3 separate regions of the Homo sapiens genome follow, and all the other regions are linked to region 3. The links come from fine-mapping of genetic effects on gene expression. A gene starts in region 3. Each other region holds a variant in brackets. All regions are shown on one strand. Distances are from middle to middle.

Evidence for each region. PIP is the estimated chance that this variant, and not a neighbour inherited with it, causes the effect. A credible set is the group of variants that fine-mapping cannot tell apart.
Region 1: its variant is the best candidate, but not a certain one, in a credible set for the expression of KIAA1143 in monocytes (BLUEPRINT, PIP 0.57).
Region 2: its variant is the best candidate, but not a certain one, in a credible set for the expression of KIAA1143 in lung (TOPMed, PIP 0.79).

The regions. Positions count from the first base shown.
Region 1 is chr3:44,889,241-44,893,240 of GRCh38, reverse strand. TGM4 (transglutaminase 4) reads right to left here. Exons shown (of 14, transcript NM_003241.4): 4 at 2,509-2,638. Among named protein-coding and RNA genes, the nearest start is that of TGM4, 17 kb to the right of the region's middle. The variant G/A (reference allele first, on the strand shown) is at 2,463.
Region 2 is chr3:44,819,573-44,823,896 of GRCh38, reverse strand. The region is part of intron 20 of KIF15 (kinesin family member 15); the gene reads right to left. Among named protein-coding and RNA genes, the nearest start is that of MIR564, 40 kb to the left of the region's middle. The variant C/T (reference allele first, on the strand shown) is at 2,529.
Region 3 is chr3:44,759,770-44,764,093 of GRCh38, reverse strand. It overlaps KIAA1143, which reads left to right and starts at 2,475. Exons shown (of 3, transcript NM_020696.4): 1 at 2,475-2,599. The coding sequence starts at 2,492. KIF15 (kinesin family member 15) reads right to left here and starts at 2,300. Exons shown (of 35, transcript NM_020242.3): 1 at 2,210-2,300. The coding sequence starts at 2,228. RefSeq lists enhancers at 2,250-2,529, 3,320-3,962.

The DNA.
Region 1 (4,000 bases), 130 kb before region 3:
AAATGCCAGGGGCTAGCAGGTAAACATGGTGGAGAGCTGGCCTTGGAAAATCACTGTGCAACCATCACAGTGAAGAATGGTTGAAGCAAGAACCATCAGTGGATGCTAAATCTAGGGGTGGAGAATTTTAATAAGGATCAGGATGTTTGGATGGTCTTAAAATGTGTCCACATAGACTACTCGTTAAAAAGAAAAAGATAGTAATTATATAGCAGAAAAACTGGACAACACCTTGACCAAATGATCACATTTAACATTCCCAATGAGGGGCAGGCAGTGCCTCCAGATATGATTTTCCAAGAAGGACATGTCGTTTACATAATATCCAGCAAGGACTGCGTAACCTGAATCTAAAGATGATGAATCATCAGACAGACCCAAATGATGAATGATCTGTTAAAAAAGGGGACTTCTAGTCCTCAAAAATATGTCAAAAAAGACAAAGAAAGATAAAGAAATTGTTCCAGATTAAAGGAGGTAAACATAACTACATGCAAAATGTGACTCTAGATTGGATCCTGTACTGGAGGGAAAACAATGCTATAAAGTACATGATAAAATCAAGTGACCGGCTGGGTGCGGTGCCTCATGCCTATAATCCCAGCACTTTGGGAGGCCAAGCCAGGTAGATCACCTGAGGTCAGGAGTTCGAGACCAGCCTGACCAACATGGCGAAACCCTGTCTCTACTAAAAATACAAAAATTAGCTGGGTGTGGTGGCATGTGCCTGTAATCCCAGCTACTTGGGAGGCTGAGGCAGAAGAATTGCTTGAACCCAGGAGGCAGAGGCTGCAGCGAGCCAAGATCGCACCATTGCGCCATTGCACTCCAGCCTGGGCGACAAGAGTGAAACTCCGTCTCAAAAAAAAAAAAAAAAATTAAAAAAAAAGTGACCAAACTGGAATATAGATAGTAGATGAAAGTGTTATGCTAACACTTATTTTTTTAATTATTTATTTTTATTTATTTATTTATTTATTTTTGAGACAGAGTCTCGCTCTGTCACCCAGGCTGGAGTGCAGTGGCGTGATCTCAGCTCACTACAACCTCCACCTCCCAGGTTCAAGCGATTCTCCTGCCTCAGCCTCCCAAGTAGCTGGGATTACAGGTGCATGCCACCAGGCCCAGCTAATTTTTTGTATTTTTAGTAGAAACAGGGTTTCACCATGTTATCCAGGATGGTCTTGATCTCCTGACCCTGTGTTCCGCCTGCCTTGGCCTCCCAAAGTGCTGGGATTACAGGCATGAGCCACCGCGCCTGGCCTATTTTTTTTTTTCCTTTTTTGAGACAGAGCTGGAGTGCAGTGGTGCAATCTCGGCTCACTGCAAGTTCTGCCTCCCGGGTTCACGCCATTCTCCTGTCTCAGCCTCCCTAGTAGCTGAGAATATAGGCGCCCGCCACCATGCCCGGCTAATTTTTTTGTATTTTTAGTAGAGATGGGGTTTCACCGTGTTAGCCAGGATGGTCTCGATCTCCCAACCTCGTGATGCGCCCACCTCGGCCTCCCAAAGTGCTGTGATTACAGGCGTGAGCCACCACGCCTGGCTGCTAACACTTAATTTACTGAAGTTGATAACTGTACTGTGGTTATATGAGAGAATATCCCTGTTCTTAGGGAATACACATTGAAGGGTTTAGGGGTTGTAAAGAACCAACTTATATGTAACTTACTCTCAAATGGTTCAAAAATAAAAAGCTTGTGTGTGTGTGTGTGTGTGTGTGTGTGTAGAGGAGGGAGGGAGGGAAAATGATTAAGCAAATGGAGCAAAATGTTAACAACAGGTGAGCCTGGATGATAAAGGGTATAGGTTGTTCATTACATCATTTTTGCCACTTTTCTGTGAGCTCAAAATCATTTCCAAATACAAGTTAAAAAAAAAGAGCTCCTTGGCTTCTAGCATGGGTACCTGATGGCTTTTGACTTCAAGAAGGCCCCAGGAGAGAGGGCAGGTGTGGAAAGGGTTGACATAGAATGTGCCGCATTTGAGGCTGCAAGAAGATGTCCAGCACCCTCTGGAGAGAAGCCAGTGCTGGTAATGGCAGAAGTAGCCTCAAGCACCATTTACATAAAGGCTCCAGTGTAGCCACAGGAAGAAATGAGGTGGGTACATGAGGAAGTGGAGAGAAGAGAACAGAACTAAGGGAGCAGAAGGGAGGAACCAACCACAATTCAGGCCCTGACCTGGAGCTGGCAAGGAAGAAGTCCTTGGTGGCCCCTCCCCACCCCCACGAAGGCAGCCTCTGTACAGTGGTGGAGGCAGAAGCCAGCTGGGGCAGGGCGAGGCACTGGGGAGAAGTGGAAACAGGGAATAAGGACCTCCATTCTAAGGGGCCTGGTCACAAAGAAAACGCTCCATTGGTGTCTGTGATCTGTTCCTGGGTCACATCCCTTAAACTAGTTTGCAAGTACCTTGAGAGCAAACAAAAGCTCATAGACTATGCATTGCACATAGCAGGTTTT[G/A]CCGGGGTCACCTGCCATTCCCCAGCAGACCTGAGATTCACAGTACCTTTACACCATGGGTTGAAGAGAAGGTATAGGATGTTTTCTTCAGACTTAAGGATGTGGTTTCCAGTTTTCACGTTTAGTTGGTACTTGCCCAGGATGGCATTGGGGGAACTGGTGACAGCCACTGTGACCTGAGCAAACCATAAGATAAGGTGGACATCTCCCCCTCTGGCCAGATCCCAAATCTTACAAATGCTTCCCAGAAGAATCCGTCAGTCCTAACAACTCATCCCATCTGGAACCAGCCTGGAGACAAGGAATGGTCAGGACCCTGGACAGCCAGGAGCGCCCCTGCAAGGGCAGGATGCATGAGACAGAAAAGCAGCTCCATACAGCATGAAGTTTTGGCACGTCTTGCAAGGGCCCTGGAGAGACTGGGCATTTTCACCTCCCTGAGATTCACTCCCTTCACCACTTGCTTCACCACAGCCTGGAGGTGATACCATCTCCAGGTTGTTGGGAAGATGCTGTGGATAAAGTACGCATAAGGTGCTGACATGGCTGGCTCTGTGTCCCCACTCGAATCTCGTCTCGTATTGTAATCCCCATAATCCCCACATGTTGAGTGAGGGACCTGGTGGGAGGTGATTGAATCATGGGGGCAGTTTCCCCCATGCTGTTCTCATGATAGTCAGTGAGTGCTCATGAGCTCTGATGGTTTTATAAGGCAGTTTCCCCTGCTCTTTCTCGCTCTCTCTCACCTGCTACCATGTAAAATGTGCCTACTTCCTCTTCTGCCATGATTGTAAGTTTCCTGAGGTGTCCCCAGCCATGTGGAACTGTGAGTCAATTAAACTTCTTTCCTTTATAAATTACCCAGTCTCAGGTATTCTTTAGAGTAGTAGAGTAGTACAAGAATGGACTAATACAGGTGCCTAGCCCAGTGTCTGGAACTTCAGGGGAAAGGTTAAATGTCAGCTGTCTTTTGGAGCAAAAAAAAACACCTTTCTCTTGGAATACAGGCAGCCAGAGTCCCAGAAGGCCATTGGTCCAAGGGCGTCCAGGCCTCTATCCAGCCTTTTAGGATAAATAATAGCTGGAGAGATAATTAGGATACATCAATATTGCTGTAGCCACAATGGTACCAAGAATAATAATTCTCATCCTTGTCACAATACACTTCCATTTGTGGTCCAAGGTCCTCCCATGAGATGCTTATTATTATAACTCATAGGAGCAATAGGCTCTCAGTTCAAATCCCAGCTCTACTCTTCCCCCTTTTTTTTGAGACAGAGTCCTTCTCTCTCACCCAGGCTGGAGTGCAACTGGCTTCTAGCATGGGCATCTGATGGCTTTTGACTTCAGGAAGGCCCCAGGAGAAAGGGCAGGTGTGGAAAAGGGTTGACATAGGATGTGCCACATTTGAGGCTGCAAGATGTCCAGCACCCTCTGGAGAGAAGCTGGTGCTGGCGATGGCAGAAGTAGCCTTGAGTGCCATTGCAGCATTGAACTCCTGGGGTCAAGTGATTCTCCCACCTAAGCCTCCCAACTAG
Region 2 (4,324 bases), 60 kb before region 3:
GGGACACTTCTGCCATAATACTGAGCTTTTCCAATGGTCTTATCAAATGGCATACCAGAAGATTATATCCCGCACCTAGCTCGGTGGGTCCCACGCCCACGGAGCCTCACTCACTGCTAGCACAGCAGTCTGAGATCGACCTGTGAGGCAGCAGCCTGGCAGGGGGAGGGCCATCCGCCATTGCTGAGGCTTGAGTAGGTAAACAAAGCGGCCTGGAAGCTTGAACTGGGTGGAGCCCACCACAGCTCAGCAAGGCCGGCTGCCTCTATAGATTCCACCTGTGGGGGCAGAGCATAGCTGAGCAAAAGGCAGCAGAAACCTCTGCAGACTTAAACATCCCTGTCTGATAGCTCTGAAGAGTACAGTGGTTCTCCCAACACGGTGTTTGAGCACTGAGAATGGACAGACTGCCTCCTCAAGTGGGTCCCTGACCTCTGTGTAGCCTAACTGGGATAAACCTCCCAGTAGGGGCCGACTGACACCTCATACAGGTGGGTGCCCCTCTGGGACGAAGCTTCCAGAGGAAGGATCAGGCAGCAATATTTGCTGTTCTGCAGCCTCCGCTGGTGATACCCAGGCAAACAGGGTCTGGAGTGAGCCTCCAGCAAACACCAACAGAGCTGCAGCTGAGGGACCTGACTGTTAGAAGGAAAACTAACAAACAGAAAGGAATAGCATCAACACCAACAAAAAGGGCATCCATACCAAAACCCCATCTGTCAGTCACCAATATCAAAGACCAAAGGTAGATAAAACCACAAAAATGGGGAGAAACCACAGGAGAAAAGCTGAAAATTCTAAAAACCAGAGCGCCTCTTCTCCTCCAAAGGATTGTAGCTCCTCACCAGCAATAGAACAAAGCTGGACGAGAATAACTTTGACGAGTTGACAGAAGTAGGCTTCAGAAGGTCGGTAATAACAAACTTCGACAAGCTAAAGGACCATGTTCAAACCCAATGCAAGGAAGCTAAAAACCTTGAAAAAAGATTAGACGAATGGCTAACTAGAATAAACAGTGTAGAGAAGACCTTAAATGAACTGATGGGGCTGAAAACCAGAGCATGAGAACTTCATGACACCTGCACAAGGCTTCAACAGTCGATTCGATCAAGTGGAAGAAAGGGTATCACTGAGTGAAGATCAAATCAATGAAATAAAGCGAGAAGAGAAGTTTAGAGAAAAAAGAGTAAAAAGAAATGAACAAAGCCTCCAAGAAACATGGGACTATGTGAAAAGACCAAATCTACATTTGATTGGTGTACCTGAAAGTGATGGGGATAATGGAACCAAGTTGGAAAACACTCTTCAGGATATTATCCAGGAGAACTTCCCCAACCTAGCAAGGCAGGCCAACATTCAAATTCAGGAAAAACAGAGAATACCACAAATATACTCCTCGAGAAGAGCAACCCCAAGACACATAATTGTCAGATTCACCAAGGTTGAAATGAAGGAAAAAATGTTAAGGGCAGCCAGAGTGAAAGGTCGGGTTACCCACAAAGGGAAGCCCATCAGACTAACAGCGGATCTCTCAGCAGAAACTCTACAAGCCAGAAGAGAGTGGGGGGCAATATTCAACATTCTTAAATAAAGAATTTTCAACCCAGAATTTCATATCCAGCCAAACTAAGATTCATAAGTGAAGGAGAAATAAAATCCTTTACAGACAAGCAAATGCTGAGAGATTTTGTCACCATCAGGCCTGACTTACAAGAGCTCCTAAAGAAAGCACTAAAAATGGAAAGGAACAACCAGTACCAGCCACTGCAAAAACATGCCAAATTGTAAAGACCATCGACGCTAGGAAGAAACTGCATCGGTACTGCTGACATCTCAGCTCACTGCAACCTCCCTGCCTGATTCTCCTGCCTCAGCTTGCCGAGTGCCTGCAATTGCAGGCACGCACCGCCACGCCTGACTGGTTTTCGTATTTTTTTGGTGGAGACGGGGTTTCGCTGTGTTGGCCGGGCTGGTCTCCAGCTCCTAACCGCGAGTGATCCGCCAGCCTCGGCCTCCCGAGGTGCCGGGATTGCAGACGGAGTCTGGTTCACTCAATGCTCAATGTTGCCCAGGCTGGAGTGCAGTGGCGTGATCTCAGCTCGCTACAACCTCCACCTCCCAGCCGCCTGCCTTGGCCTCCCAAAGTGCCGAGACTGCAGCCTCTGCCCAGCCGCCACCCTGTCTGGGAAGTGAGGAGCGTCTCTGCCTGGCCGCCCATCATCTGGGACGTGAGGAGCCCCTCTGCCTGGCTGCCCAGTCTGGAAAGTGAGGAGCGCCTCTTCCCAGCCGCCATCCCATCTAGGAAGTGAGGAGCGCCTCTTCCCGGCCGCCATCCCATCTAGGAAGTGAGGAGCGTCTCTGCCCGGCCACTCATCGTCTGAGATGTGGGGAGCGCCTCTGCCCCGCCGCCCCGTCTGGGATGTGAGGAGTGCCTCTACCCGGCCGCAACCCCGTCTGGGAGGAGAGGAGCGTCTCTGCCCGACCGCCCCGTCTGAGAAGTGAGGAGCCCCTCCGCCCGGAAGCCGCCC[C/T]GTCTGAGAAGTGAGGAGCGTCACCGCCCCGCAGCCACCCCGTCCAGGAAGGAGGTGGGGGTCACCCACCGCCAGGCCAGCCGCCCCGTCCAGGAGGGAGGTGGGGGGGTCAGCCCTCCGCCCGGCCAGCCGCCCCGTCCGGGAGGTGAGGGGCGCCTCTGCCCAGCCGCCCCTACTGGGAAGTGAGGAGCCCCTCTGCCCGGCCAGCTGCCCCGTCCGGGAGGGAGGTGGGGGGGTCAGCCCCCCGCCCGGCCAGCCGCCCGGTCCGGGAGGGAGGTGGGGGGGGTCAGCCCGCCACCCGGCCTGCCGCCCCATCCGGGAGGGAGGTGGGGGGGTCAGCCCCCCCGCCCGGCCAGCCGCCCCGTCCGGGAGGGAGGTGGGGGGGTCAGCCCCCTGCCCGGCCAGCCACCCCGTCCGGGAGGTGAGGGGCGCCTCTGCCCGGCCGCCCCTACTGGGAGGTGAGGAGCCCCTCTGCCCGGCCACCACCCCGTCTGGGAGGTGTGCCCGGCAGCTCATTGAGAACGGGCCATGATGACAATGGCGGTTTTGTGGAGTAGAAAGTGGGGAGAGGTGGGGAAAAGAGTGAGAAATCGGATGGTTGCCGTGTTTGTGTAGTAGGAGGTAGACATGGGAGACTTTTCATTTTGTTCTGTACTAAGAAAAATTCTTCTGCCTTGGGATCTTGTTGATCTGTGACCTTACCCCCAACCCTGTGCTCTCTGAAACATGTGCTGTGTCCACTCAGGGTTAAATGGATTAAGGGCGGTGCAAGATGTGCTTTGTTAAACAGATGCTTGAAGGCAGCATGCTCGTTAAGAGTCATCACCACTCCCTAATCTCAAGTACCCAGGGACACAAACACTGCGGAAGGCCGCAGGGTCCTCCGCCTAGGAAAACCAGAGACCTTTGTTCACTTGTTTATCTGCTGACCTTCCCTCCACTATTGTCCTGTGACCCTGCCAAATCCCCCTCTGTGAGAAACACCCAAGAATGATCAATAAAAAATAAATAAAAGTTTAAAAAAAAAAAAGGAAAAAAAAAAGAAACTGCATCAACTAACGAGCAAAATAACCAGCTAACATCATAATGACAGGATCAAATTCACACATAACAATATTAACCTTAAATGTAAATGGGCTAAATGCCCCAATTAAAAGACACCAACTGGCAAATTGGATAGTCAAGACCCATTGGTGTGCTGTATTCAGGAGACCCATCTTACGTGCAGAGACACACATAGGTTCAAAATAAAGGGATGGAGGAAGATCTACCAAGCAAATGGAAAGCAAAAAAAACCAGCGATTGCAATCCTAGTCTCTGATAAAACAGACTTTAAACCAACAAAGATCAAAAGAGACAAAGAAGGCCATTACATAATGATAAAGGGATCAATTCAACAAAAAGAGCTAACTATCCTAAATATATATGCACCCAATACAGGAGCACCCAGATTCATAAAGCAAGTCCTGAGTGACCTACAAAGAGACTTAGACTCCCACACAATAATAATGGGAGACTTTAACACCCCACTGTCAATATTAGACAGATGAATGAGACAGAAGGTTAACAAGGGTATCCAGGACTTGAACTCAGCTCTGGACCAAGCGGACCTAATAGACATCTACAGAACTCTCCACCCCAAATCAACAGAATATACATTCTTCTCAGCACCACATCGCACTTATTCCAAAATTGACCACATAGTTAAAAGTAAAGCACTCCTCAGCAAATGTAAAAAAAACAGAAATCACAACAAACTGTCTCTTAGACCACAGTGCAATAAATTAGATCTCAGG
Region 3 (4,324 bases):
AGTCTTCCTGCTTTAAAACAGACCATTGGATGCTTTACTCTGCAGTCTAGATAAATACTCATCAGTCATTTGCCCAAACATGATTGGGTTCAGAAAGGGAATCTTAGGCCAGGTGCAGTGGCTCACGCCTGTAATCCTAGCACTTTGGGAGGCCAAGGCAGGTGGATTGCTTGAGTTCAGGAGTTCAAGACCAGCCTGGGCAACATGGTGAAACCCTGTCTCTACTAAAATACAAAAAATTAGCAGGGCATGGTGGTGCACGCCTGTAGTCCCAGCTACTTGGGAGGCTGAGGCACGAGTACTGCTTGAACCCAGGAGGTGGAGATTGCAGTGAGCCAAGATTGCGTCACTGCACTCCAGCCAGCCTGGGTGACAGAGCAACACTGTCTTTAAAAAAAAAAAGGGGGGAATCGTATATTTCACTTTTTCATTTCTCTGATTTCACAGTCAGCAACTCATGGTGTCAATGATGTCACTAGAGATAGCCTTCATGGGGCCGGGTGTGGTGGCTCATGCCTGTAATCCCAGCACTTTGGGAGGCCAAGGTGGGCAAATCACGAGGTCAGGAGATCGAGACCATCCTGGCCAACACAGTGAAACCCCGGCTTTACTAAAAATAAAAAAATTAGCTGGGCATGGTGGCGCGTGCCTGTAATCCCAGCTACTTGGGAGACTCAGGCAGGAGAATCTCTTGAACCCGGGAGGCGGAGGTTGCAGTGAGCCAATATCGCACCACTGCACTCCAGCCCGGCAATAGAGCAAGACTCTGTCTCAAAAATAAAAAAGAGAGAGAGAGATAGCCTTCGGGGCACAAAGTAAAAGTTGCAAAGACCACTGCACGGGCTCTCTTCTCCCATGTGTTCCCACTTCATGCTCCAGGCCTCTGGGCTGCTGGGAATGCAAGAAGCACTTTAACTGGGAAGTCATCAACCTCAATTTTGCCAACAAACTTAAAGGAGTGGAAAAGTTCCCCATGGCATCACCACCATCATAAAGGAGAGTGCTCCCACCACTTTAGAAAGGTTCTCAAATTTGGTTTTCAGACAAGAGCCCTCAGTCACATACATATATCTCATTAAATAAGCAGATGTTTTACTTATTTAACAGGCATCAAATTTTTTGCTTGAGTCCAGATTTAGTGACTGATCCATAAAGTGGAAACAAAGAACAAACAGTATGATTGTTCAGAAAGCAGGATGAACATTTCTCTCCAATAAGGTACCATTTTGTGAGCTCATAGTCCTTGAATACTGAAAATGATGAAAGGAAAAGGAATATTTTATATGCAAAAAGGTAGCATAAGGAGGTGTTCCGATTAGGTGTGATCGACCTAAAAGATTAATGAAACAACAAACCCATCAAAAACGACTACAATTGACAGAAAGCTAGAAACATTAACGGCGTTGGAAAGCTCAAATGACAGAAGTTCACAAATTCTTAATCATCTAATCCAGGCCTCTCCTCATTACCATTCAGACCACTCACAAAGATCCCATTAAATCAGCTCATAATCAGGTTTACAAAAATAAGACTCCTTAAGAGATGTGGCAATGTGAGAAGTGGAGCACGTACACAGGCACAGCAAATGACTACGTTAGTGAAAACTGTAGGGTTTATCATAAGCAAAATGACAGTGCTCTCCTCCGTGAAAAAGAGAAAGAAATCGGACGGGTCTCCTTTAAGTGAAAATAGAGACTGTGAGAACATAAAGACATTGCTGACATCTGTGTTTTAACATTCCATTTATTTAAGGAAAGAGGAGAAAGAAATGTTTGGAATATAAATAAACCCTTCCCTATAGGAAGGTCAGAAATGTAGAAATACGCAGAAGCTGGTGGGAGCAAAAGCCGATCCTGAGACAAGGATATCTAGAGAGGTAGCCCTGGTCGGGATGTGGGAAGAGGCCTGCGAAGAAACAGCAGAACCAAGGGAAAGAAAGGGAAGAACGTCAGGTCCACTGCTCATCCCGAGCGCCTAGAACTGCGCCAGACTCCTGGCATGCGCACAGGACACTGAAGGAAGGGATGAGCTTTTCGGCTAGCGTATTGTCTTTGAGCGACAGAGCGGGATTCCCAAACGTCCCCGCCGGTCACTCAGCTCCTGCAGTTCATGCCTAGCAAGAACCTTGCGGGCGGTCCGAGGCTGCCATCCTTTCACAGCTGTATTTGGGGGCAAAAATAGGGTAACGAAGCCGGGGGCCCAGACTTACTTTTGCAGCCGGGTGCCATAGCGCCCTCACCCCTCGATCCCGAAAACAATGCAGCCGGTGCCTCCACCTCCCGACTGCACCGCGCGCGACTGAATTCCGCCCGCTCAAGATGGCCGCAAATTTGAATTTGGCGCTTGGATCGGACGTTGACGCCCGCATGGAGGCCGCCATGTTGCCCGGCCTACGCATCGGGGGCGTGGCCCAGTGACGTCACAGCTAAGCGCCTCTGTATCGTCGCGAATCCGTCGCGGAACCTGTCTTCTGTCTTTACCCAGAGCTACCATGAGCAAGCGGAACCAGGTATCGTACGTGCGGCCAGCCGAGCCGGCGTTTCTGGCCCGCTTCAAGGAACGGGTCGGCTACAGGGAGGGACCCACCGTAGAGACTAAGGTGAGCCTTCGCCAGTCGTGTTTCTTCGGAAGCGCAGCCAGCCCGCCACTTTCAACTTTTGCCTCTACTTGGAGGGTGGGTGCTGTCGGGTCCCTCTTTTCACCCGCGCTCGAACCCAATTCCGGTGGAACTCGGACCCCCAGGCTGGTTCTTTTCAAGCGACCACAGCCCCCTACGCCCAGGAAGCTCTGTAGTTTTCAGAGCGCTGCTGTGTTCCTGAAAATGAACTGACGTGTAAACCACCTGGTCCTTGGTAGATGGTAAAGAAAGATCACTTTATTGTCTCTTCTTTCTCACTTGTTTACCTCAAAAGCTGTGAGTTCGCAGGGTGAGTTAGAGTTACAGCGTCGTCCCGTATTCCAGATAAGGACACAGGCCACTCGATCAAATGACCCCCGCCCCAACCATGTCCTAGGACTCGAGTCTGGAACGTCTTCGGAGGAATGTCCTGAATCTGTTTCTATGCTTTGTTAATTAAAAATAAATAAAAATAATATAGAGAAGGTCGGGCACAGTGGCTCACGCCTGTAATCCCAGTACTTTGGGAGGCCTAGGTGGGCGGATCACCTGAGGTCAGGAGTTCGAGACCAGCAGAGCCAATAGCCAATATGGTGAAACCCCCCGTCTCTGCTAAAAATACAAAAATTAGCCGGGCATGGTGGCACATGCCTGTAGTCCCAGCTACTCCGGAGGCTGAGACAGAATCGCTCGAACCCGGGAGGTGGACGTTGCAGTGAGTTGAGATGGCGCAGCTGCACTCCAGCCTGGACAACAGAGCGAGACTCCGTCTCAAAAAAAAAAAAAAAAAGCCGGGCCTGGTGGCTCACGCCTGTAATCCCAGCGCTCTGGGAGGCTGAGGCGGCAGATCACGAGGTCAGGAGATCGAGACCATCCTGGCTAAAACAGTGAAACCGCGTCTCTACTAAAAATACAAAAAATTAGCCAGGCATGGTGGCGGGCGCCTGTAGTCCCAGCTACTCGGGAGGCTGAGGCAGGAGAATGGCGTGAACCCAGGAGGAGGAGCTTGCAGTGAGCCGAGATCGCGCCACTGCACTCCAGACTGGGCGACAGAGCGAGACTCCGTCTCAAAAAAAAGAAAAAAAAGAAGAGTAAGCAGAAGCCGTAAATATCCTGGGTCTAAATAGAAGAAGAGGAGCTTCAGGAAAGAGCCACACCTGACTATTGTTGTCTAGGGCCGGAGGGATCAGTATTGAACACATGAATGACAAGAAAGCAAAACAGCTACATTGCTGATACAGAGAAAGTTTTAGTGGTCTGGATAGAAGAGCAAACCAGCCACAACATTCCCTTTAACCAAAGCCTAATCTAGAGCAAGGCCCTAACTCTTAAATCCTGTGAAGTCTGAGACATGTGAGAAAGCTGCAGAAGAAAAGTGTGAAGCTAACAGAGGTTGGTTCATGAGGTTTAAGGAAAGAAGCCATCTCCATAACATAAAAGTATGAGATGAAGAAGCAAATTATTCAGATCTAGCTAAGATAGTTGATGAAGGTGGCTACACTAAACAGGTTTTCAATGTAGATGAAACAGCCTTCTATTGGAAGAAGATGCCATCTAGGACTTTTTTTTTTTTTTTTTTTTTGAGATAGGGTCTCACTCTGTCGCCCAGGCTAGAGTGCAGTGGTGCAATCACAGCTCACTGCAGCCTTGACCTCCTGGGCTCAAGTGATCCTCCTGCCTCAGCCTCTCAAGCAGCTGGGACTACAG